2 separate regions of the Homo sapiens genome follow, and region 2 is reported to be linked to region 1. Evidence: microRNA targets listed by miRTarBase, many of them from high-throughput screens and not tested one by one. Region 1 holds a microRNA gene; the other region holds the end of a gene's coding sequence.

Region 1 (5,077 bases):
ATCAGAGTCCCCTCCATGACCAAGGCACCACTCCACTGACAGGTATGGTATCCATTTGCCCTCTCTTCTTGGATTCTCAAGCTGGGGCAGAGTCCATGGCAGCCAAGGGTGGCTTGGATCTGCCCATCCCATTCTCTTCAGACCCTCCTCAGGGATTAAGGTCAAAGGTGGGAGGAAGAAGGCTTCCATTGGCCTTTTATCCTAGAGGTTCTAATGGAGGGGAAAAGGGGATAGGATATTTTCTATCCAATCAGGATGTTTAGGAGATAGTCACATGGAAGTGGAATGGCCTTTGGACCCAGGAGTCAGGAAACCTGAGTAGCAGTCCTGGTTTTACCATTTACCCAATGTGTATCTTTGGGTAAGTCCTTTCTCCAATCTAGGACACAGTTTTTTCACCCCTTTTGCAAAATAAAAAAGTAAAAAGAGGAAAAGAATGATTAGATAGATGCTGTCTAGAGACCCATGGTTATTAGATTCCTAATTTTCATGATTGTCAGCCCTCTGTCAAGAAAGAAGATGAGAGTAATCTTTGCATATGTAACTGTGGGTGGGGCTGAACACATTCAAGAGGAGAGTGCTGGTGGTAATCCATATAGCACTCTCTGAGAGGCATGACTCAAAGATGAAAGCCTCTTTTCTAGTCCAATCTTTGACTCCTAGAGATTCAAAATTGAAAGACTCTTAGAGACTAGGTACATATGGAAGAAACTGAGGTCCAGAAAGAGGAAGAAAGGGACTTGCCCAAAGTCATACAGAGAATCTGTAGCACAGCTGGGTCTGGGCTCCCAGGTCAGTCCTCTTTTTGCTCTATCCTAGGAGGACTGAGACATCAAGCAGCAGGACCTGTCCTGTAACTGACCCAGGACAGGTCCTGCTCATACTAGAGGCAGTCTGGGATTTTTAGGCATGGTCCTGAGGACTTCTTCTTTTCTTCTATTTTTCTTTCAGGTACTTGGCTCACTCTGAGTGTTCAGAGATTCCTAGACACCTACTTACCCCTAATTCTTCTGGTCTATTCCCTCCAATTCCCTCCATAAAAACTGACCCATCCTTTGCATCAACAATAGTGGCTTGATGACGCTCTTCAGTAGAGGATTTTGCATTTCATATGGGGAAAAATGATGTTATTCTAAGTAATATAACAGACCAAGAGAAGAGCTTTCAAATTCCCTTAATATCATCCCATATAGATATTTATGTCTTCTTTCTATGGGTCTGGTGAACATTTCTCAACTGAATGTGATTTTCTTACATACACTCCATTGGAGAGGCATACCAGTCTAGTTTCAGCTCAACCACTAACTCCTTCCATTAATACTGAAGCAATGTTGTCTATAAGGCTCCACAAATTTCAAAGTACTAATAATTTTTAGCCCCTTTCATGCCTCCTTTCCAGCCTTTCTGGAGGTGAATAAAGTCAGAAAGTGCATTCAAAAGGCTGTGAACACCTCCAGCTTATCTAGGTCTTCTTACTGGAGCTGACAGCCAATGAGTGTAATGATACAAAAAAGGTAACAATCCATTTCTTTTTCTCCTGCCATCCCCAACTCAGACTCTGTTAATCAGCTTGCTTGGCTGGCCTCCAACCATAGGTCCAGGGGCTGAGACAAGGTCCTTTTGAGCTCCTATGTGGGAGGCTCTGGAAAGCTTAGCAACACTTTCCAACAACTTTGCCAGGTAAGTAGGTAAGTCTCCTTGTTCTCATTTCCAGAGAAGACAACTGAAACCCAAAGAAAGACTTGCCCAAGCCATGATTGGCTAGTTGATGGCCAAGACAGCATTAGAACACAAGTTTGTCGATTCTGTCATGCCATATTTGGTGACCATGACTGCTGCTTTTGCTGCTGGGTGGATTAGGCTGAATTGGGTAGGTAGAAAAGGAAGTGAGGGAGTGAAAGAGCTTTAGTTTTGAGATGACTGCCAGAACTTAAATTGAAGGAGTATGTTACCTTCTTAACATTCAATTAAAAGAATAGAGCAAGAAAAGACACTGATTGTTTTCTTGCTGAAAGACAAGGCTGAATCCCTCTGTCTTACCTGGGCTGGGACAGGGCTTTCCGGCCTCATGGGGGCAGTTTACCATTTCTGGTAACCTTGTGATGTTTGCCACTTTTCATGACAATATTTAATGTAGACCAGCTACCTGCTCACAGATCAACTGCCACAGCTGGTAAGGGCAGTAATTTGACACCAGCAACCTGGGATTTTTAGCAACAGGATCTGATTGTTGCCAAGGGAATTCTCCCAGAAGTTTCAGACCTGACCCTGCTCCTGGCAGCTTCCTTATTGCCCTGGTGGCTTGTGGGTTCAGTGATCCCAAATGTTGCATTACAAAGCTATTGCCTGTTTTTGCCCTCTTTGTTGATGTGTCTTCCCTTTCCCAGAGGGATATACAGAGAAGGGAGGCAAAATAACCAATGAGGAAAGCTGTATAAGGCATACTGCTGAACTGTAAAAAATTTATTGTATAAACTTTACAAGTCTCCTCCCCAACAGGAGCCTTTGTTATCTCATTTATAACCTAAGTGAGTGAGACTAGATGATCTTTAAGGGCACTTTAATAGCTGCCATTCTTGAGTCCCTATGGGACAAGAGGATCATGTTAGGCAAGGCTGAGACCACAAGAAATCAATGTCACACCTGTCCAGATCCTGCTAAATCAATTGCCAATAGCTCTTTCTTTCATTTTGGTCACACAACCACTACTTTTTGAGCATTTGTTATGTATTGAATACTGAACCAAAGGCTTTACATGCATTATCTCCTGTCATTCTCACAATAACCTTATGAGGTAGGTATTATACTTACATACATTTTGTGGGTGTAGAAAACTTGAGCTCAGAGAGGTGAAATGATGTATCCAAGGTTGCCTAACTAGCTAATGGAAGAACTAGGATTTAAGCTCATGTTTAACCTCAAAGCCTATGTGCATAACCACAACACTGAAAACACAGCTTGGGAGAATTGAGAAGAGGGAGCAAGGATGCTGACTCTAGGGTCTGGTACTTTCCTCAAGTCAGGGAGGCAGGATGATGACCAAATTTTCCCCTCTCTGCTGCATAGAGGAACCCACTGAAGCTTGGGACCCCTAGAAATGCCATAGCTACAGGACTCAGGCCTGATGAGCTTCCAGCTGAGCACTGGGTGTCACTCGGGCTTTACCTGCTTATCTTCAGGATCTCTCTTCTGGTTAGGAACCCTATGCCTATTTTGCTCACTTCCCTATTCTGGTGCTTTGGTTGGTCCTTTGAGCAAGATCCCCGGGGCTAAGGGTGTGACTTCATCATTCCTTTCTCTCTCTTTCCCTCTAGGGTCACATCTCCCAGGAAGATCTCACTTCCCCACAGAAGCTCTTGGCCTGGCCTCCTGCAGTGCCACGCTCCGTGTATTTGACAAGCTGAGTTGGACACTCCATGTGGTAGAGTGTCAGTTTGTCAAATACCCCAAGTGCGGCACATGCTTACCAGCTCTAGGCCAGGGCAGATGGGATATGACGAATGGACTGCCAGCTGGATACAAGGATGCTCACCAAGCACCAAGTTCTCACAAGTTATTTTATGTGACTTTGCAGGAACTGAGGCATTATATCTGAGGACACCAGGGGAAAAGTGTGGCATCTCAGGGAAATACAGCCCTGGGCTGTGTCTACACACACCATGAGAGTGCTGATGGGGGCGCAATAGTCTTGAAAATGTATAAAGTGTCCAGGAATGGAAGTGCTCTTTGATTCATTATTATTTTCTTCCTTCATATTCCCCTCCCAGAGTCTCCTATCTAGGACATCAGCATTCTCACACAAGCCTAATGGCTTATCTGAGTAAGCAGGGCTTAGAAATTCACTTTCTTGATACTCAGTCTTGCCTTCTAAACACTCCTTGATCTTGCCTACCTCTCCCCTTTTCCACATGTCTTTTCCTGTAGGAACACTTTCTCCATTTATTCCTGCCTATCCAATTCTTCCCTATATTTCCTGGACCAGCTAAAGTCCAGTGTTTCCAGAGACTTTTGAAAGTCAACTTACACTTTTTCCTTCTTCATTCACAAAGCTCTTCTTCCCTGGGCCCTGGTATGTATGCCTTTCTCTCCTACTGTCTAATAGCACCTCGTAAATTGTCAATGAACTTTTCTAAGGGGTATTCTTGAATTCCCAACTAGATTGTGAGCTTCTGGAAGACAAGGCTATGTCTTTGATTGTTGTCTCCCCTACCACAGCCCAGTACTTTAGTTACAGAAAATAATAAATATTTACTGATTGATTGACTTTCCTCTTGTCCACTAGCTTTAGGTTTGGGGGCCAAATTCTACCCTGGATTTTGAAAAATTCAAACTGTGAACACCACAATGTTATAGAGCATATGAGGTAGTAGCCAGCATGAAGGATGTTTTCTTCCTGAGAAACAGTGTCAAGGGCTGGAGGAAGAGGGCAAAATAGCAGACTCAGAGGGCAAATAAATTTTGGTATTACTTGGTCACACAAGGTTATACAGGTGTTTTCTTGTAGGATTTTTCAGAGCCTTTAATAGTCTAATGTTGCATTGAGAATCTCAAAGAGGAAACCATAGAATGAGGCATTTGCCATACCTATCTGATCATGAATTTTCTTTTCCCCCACAGCCTTCTCCTGTGTCAATGTCCAATGAAGCACGATTTGGGAAACTGTCCTAGAGAAACTTTATACCTTCCCGCTCTTCTGGAGATCTTTTCCTCTTTTCATTCATCTACTTTCCCCAACCAGCCATCTGCCTAAGAAAGGTCACATGTTATCATCTCATTTTTGTTTAGCCTCTGCAGCTGTGGACTATCTTTATTACATAGGAATTCTTTACTAGCTTGTCCTGTATTTAAAAATATTCTAAGTTTTGAGGCAAAGAAGATCCAGATGCTGCAATAAATATATGCACTGAGGAGTTCACAGGCCTGACTTTTGGTCTCCTTTCTACCACTAACTGTGTTTTTGTTCCTCTCTGAGCTTCATTTTCTCATCTCCAATACGGAAGTATTAGAATCAGTGATCTCTAGGCTCTTTAAGATTAATGACTTTGAGATATCCCTGGGAGTCCTTAGCTCTTATGGA
Region 2 (5,077 bases), not on the chromosome of region 1:
CTCCTCGCCAGCTGAAGCAGAGAAGAAGGAGGACAACAGGTATTCCGATTTGAAAACCATCATCTGCAACTATTCTGAGACAGGCCCCCCGGAACCACCCTACAGCTTCCACCAGGTGACCATTGACAAAGTCAGCCCCTATGGGTTTTTTGCACATGACCCTGTGAACCTGCCCCGAGGGGGACCCAGTTCTGGAAAGGTTCAGGCAACTCCTCCTTCCTCAGCAACAACGTATGTGGAGAGGCCCACGGTCCTGCCTATCTTGACTCTTCTCGACTCCCGAGTGAGCTGCCACTCCCAGGCTGACCTGCAGGGCCCCTACTCGGACCGAATCTCCCCCCGGCAGAGACGTAGCATCACGCGAGACAGTGACACACCTCTGTCCCTGATGTCGGTCAACCACGAGGAGCTGGAGAGGTCTCCAAGTGGCTTCAGCATCTCCCAGGACAGAGATGATTATGTGTTCGGCCCCAATGGGGGGTCGAGCTGGATGAGGGAGAAGCGGTACCTCGCCGAGGGTGAGACGGACACAGACACGGACCCCTTCACGCCCAGCGGCTCCATGCCTCTGTCGTCCACAGGGGATGGGATTTCTGATTCAGTATGGACCCCTTCCAATAAGCCCATTTAAAAGAGGTCACTGGCTGACCCCTCCTTGTAATGTAGACAGACTTTGTATAGTTCACTTACTCTTACACCCGACGCTTACCAGCGGGGACACCAATGGCTGCATCAAATGCATGCGTGTGCGTGGTGGCCCCACCCAGGCAGGGGCTTCCCACAGCCTCTTCCTCCCCATGTCACCACAACAAAGTGCTTCCTTTTCAGCATGGTTTGCATGACTTTACACTATATAAATGGTTCCGCTAATCTCTTCTAGGATACACATTTATCTGCTGTTCTTACTTTTAATCACGATTGGACCAGTACAGGGAGAAATTACTGATGAGCCATGCTATTTGTCTGTTTGGTTGGCTGGTTTGGGTTTTGGTTTGGTAAGCAGAGAAAGTAGTTTAAGTTATTTCTAGGATCACTGCCCTCTTGTGTAAAACGCTCCAGCAATTAACTGTTTTTGAAAGCAAGGAAATAATTTTCTCAACAAAACCACATTGTGTATCAGTGGGGCTGCCTACTGAGCTAACATTAGGAAAGGAATGAGATAGTCATTGTGTCTCTAAAACAAAGAATTTAAACAAATATTTAAGGCAAAACCTTTTAAAAGCTCTCCAAAAGACCTCACTTGGCCTGATGTTACTTAGTATCATGCCTCAGTTTCCTTATCTGTAAAAAGTGGTGGTAATCCCAAGTGTAGCATTTCTGATGAGTTATGAATTGGCAGGGAGAAAACACACACACACACACACACACACACACACACACACACATACACAAAGTTAAAATAGTTTCCAATTTATGTAGCCAAGGACAATGGAATTTATCAGAAGTGAAGTGCCCCTCTGGGCAGGAGCTGAGTTCAGTGCCTTTAAAATGAATTTCCAACTCTCATTTCTTCCCATGATACTGAAGTACAAAATATCCATCTAAAATAGAAATTAAAGTCAAGAAGGCACACAGAAATTTTCTAGTCCAAGGACTTCCTTTTATAAATGAAGAATCTTAGGCTCAGGTAAAGTGACATACCCAGAGTCACTCAGTTGTCCCATAGAGAACCAGGACTCAAAAGTCAGGTCTGCCCACTCTCCCTGACCTTGTTTCCCCTCACCACACCATTCTTCCATTTATATAATGCATCCTAGAGATTGTGTCAAGATATATGACTTTGTGTCGCGTGGAAAGCACCCAGTTTATCCAGCAGGAGGGGGATTTCCACTTTTATTGCAAAACATGCTTGCTTGATGCAATGCATTTCAGATCTAGAAAAAAATAATGCAAGCAAGCTACATTTACAGATGTGTAAACAGGCAAAATTTCCAGAACCGTCCAATTTTACTTTTCCAAATTTATGGAACCAACCCAGATTTTTTAAATGAAAATACTAAAACCATATGTAACCGTAAGACAAGCTAAAATGTAAGCAGACAGCCTGGGAAGCACTGCCCTACTGTACAGGTGTGATATTAAGCACAAGCCATCCTCTGGCCTCTTATGAGATGTTGTTATTCTCTGAAAAACTTTGATGGAAAAGGTTTCTGTTAGGCTTAGACTGAATTAGCTAAATGACCATGCCACAGTATTATTGTATCACTCTTCTCACACACCTAGGCACTGGTTGTGGATAGTTGCCATGGTGACAATCAAGATAATCCAGATGACCTAAACAAATGTCTGTATGCAGCTGACACTGCTATTCTCCCTCACAGTCTTGTCAAGAGCCACAGTAGCTATGGCAGACATTTGGTTGATGGTTTCATCATTTCCTAATACGAGAGTCTGGCACTATGTTGGAGAGAGGAATCACTTCCTCAGAGATAGGTTCCTTTCAACTCACATGTCAACAGTTACTGTACAAAAAGCTCAGAATACAGTAATGATTAGAGCTTGACCCCTGACTTTAGGAACTTAGAACCAAAGCCCAAAGTCCCAGGCCAAGGGCAGACATTGTGAGCAGCAGAAGGGTGTTTTTTATGGAGAGCCCCATAAATGGATGGGTGTAGACCTTGAAGTCTGAGATGGGAAATATACCAGAATGCTCAATGCATCAGACATGAAGCCCCACGGGCTTCCATTTGACATGCTGGCAATCTGAAGGACAAAGGGCATGGGTTATTTGGGCCTTTTCCCCACTCCTTCAATATGGCTGAAAGTGCCAGTGGGGATTACAACCTAAGAAACCCTATGCCCCTTCCTGAGGGCTTGATTATTGAATCCTGATCTTCCTGGAATCTTTCACTTGAGATGATCACCTGCCTAACATCCAACATGTTACTATGCTCTTCTTTATGTACATGAGTTACTGGAAACCAACAATAAAGGAGAGTGAGTCATACTCTCCACATATGCGCCAATTAATTTTTTAACTTACTTATTAGTATTCTTGAAGAACTTACTATCTTAAGTATTTTACCAATAGATGATGCATTTTCCAGCAACTCAATGGAGTTCTACCTTAAAGTATTTACCATTGATCCAAAATTGGAGGAACTACCTTAGATTCTTTTAATAACCTAGAAAGGATTGGAGCTTGTATTATTTCCTAAACCATAGGCAGGCAGTCTAGCTTCCCTGCTGGATCATAAGACCAGGACAGCAGAGATTGGGTTTGTATTGATCAGTAGTAGGGAAGTATTGATTGTCTAACATCTAGTAAGTTGTCTTTATCAGTATAGACATAGACAAAATACATGTTTTATGAATGAATAAATAATAAGAACCTTAAGAGCTGTTTTTTTCCCATTTAAGAAAACAAAAAGGAAAAGAGAAAAATGATCTTCTGGAATAACTCTGCTTTGATATTCTCCTTTTGTTCCCCAAAAAATATATTCCAGAAAGGCAAACCAAACCTGCTCAAGTTGCCTATGCACAGACAATCTCAACAATATGGCTCACAGTGAGCAAGCAGAAATTCAGGGTCTGGAATTGAATGTGAGTTATGGGAAGAAACAGTGTGTGCTTTCACAAAGATCCTTTTGTCAGACAAGGGAACAGCATGATAATCCAATGGAACTGGTTAACATGACCCAAGATGACATGACCACAGATATACTAGTCGTTCTGAAACTTGCCCAAGAAATTGCAATCGTTTCAGCAGAACTCCATGAAATATTGACAAATTAATTCCATCATCAAACTAGGAGTGATATTATCAGGTAAAACTATGATCTCATGTATGTATTTGGTCTTTCTGGGTCACAATGTGACATGAAAAATTTTAAAGGTCATATTTTAGCAAGATCAAAATGAATTAGATAAATCAACTTCACAAATGTTAAGCGAAACATGATCCTATTGAGCTGAGAAAGAAGTACTTGAGATCGTTTGAGTTTTGACTATCAAATGTCAGCACAAAAGCAAATATCAAAAGCTTAAGAAAAAAATTATTTCAGGAAAAGAAAAACACATCAAATTGAGAAAGTGTTGTTGAATAACTTTGTTTTTAGAACTGGAAATTTAGGCTTATTAGACATGACATTGATATTACAAAGCCCTAGTTTTCATGAAAACATAACTAGATAACCCCAAGGTGTATAGGTTAAAATGAACTAATTAATCAACAATTATGCATCCTGTGTCTATTTTGTGCAAGGTACTTCCTAGACACTGTAGTTTGAAAGAATAATTTCCTGTAGAAAAACCTAATCTAATAGGACCTACTCATAATTTGGCAAAATCATCCTCATAATTCCATGCTACTGAAATGGGGGTGTAATAAAGAAAAAATCATTTGTTTATTCATTTAACAGGGTTTATTAAGCACCAATATATGCCCAGAACTTTGCAGTGCACTGGAAGTTCAGAGATAAGAAAACCACAGTTTCTGCCATCAAAATGCTAGGAATCTAGAGGTCTCAAACATCAGAGGTCCCTTCAAACTATGTCTACCAGGAAAATAAAATACCTGATTTCATCCCTGCAAACAACTCTATACAGACAGAAATGCTTCCTAGCTTGGAAACTATAGAAAATTGAACATGAAAATGAGAGCAAAGGTTCTACATCAAAATGGCAATGATCCAATCAGCCCAGTCAAGGCTGAGTGGGTTGAATGGGGACTTCGAGTTTGGATTCAATGCTTTGAACTTCATAGCTCCAGAGAAGCTGTGCAAAAAGGGGGGATTCTAGGGAATCTGAGGAAGATTGTTGGAGAAACCAGCTTTCTTCTTGTCTCCTAATCCCTGCTAAGATTGATACCAGTCAAGGAGCTGAGTTACTTTCATTTCATTATGTTGACCAAGAGAAGCTTATGATACAGACTATGACACAGCACCTATTTCAAGAGAAAGATGTTACTCTACTTATGGGAACCTGCAGATCAAATTCTCCTGGGGCAAGAGAAGAAATTTGTTCAGCAGCCTAAGAAGTCAACTGTACTTTGGACAGTGCTGCCAAACACACCCCAGGATTCTCCCACCCCTGTGCTTTCCCAGAAGATGCCACATAGCTGGTATTTGGTTTTCAT

What was found. Region 1 holds the annotated microRNA hsa-miR-223-5p (CGUGUAUUUGACAAGCUGAGUU, at 3,386-3,407, shown strand). A microRNA usually pairs through its seed, bases 2 to 8, with sites in the 3' UTR of a target mRNA and lowers its output. Matches are read on the target gene's strand: a 7mer-m8 pairs with bases 2 to 8, a 7mer-A1 pairs with bases 2 to 7 and ends in A, and an 8mer does both.
Region 2: the mRNA of KCNQ3 is a reported target of hsa-miR-223-5p. Seed matches in the 3' UTR shown: 7mer-A1 at 882-888 and 7mer-A1 at 1,385-1,391.

What each region holds. Positions count from the first base shown.
Region 1 is chrX:66,015,510-66,020,586 of GRCh38, forward strand. It overlaps MIR223 (microRNA 223), which reads left to right and starts at 3,361; the gene lies at 3,361-3,470. MIR223HG (MIR223 host gene) reads left to right here. Exons shown (of 3, transcript NR_170299.1): 1 at 1-42; 2 at 1,556-1,680; 3 at 3,315-4,917.
Region 2 is chr8:132,124,816-132,129,892 of GRCh38, reverse strand. It overlaps KCNQ3 (potassium voltage-gated channel subfamily Q member 3), which reads left to right. Exons shown (of 15, transcript NM_004519.4): 15 at 1-5,077. The coding sequence ends at 631. Among named protein-coding and RNA genes, the nearest start is that of HHLA1, 16 kb to the right of the region's middle. RefSeq lists enhancers at 59-559, 560-1,060.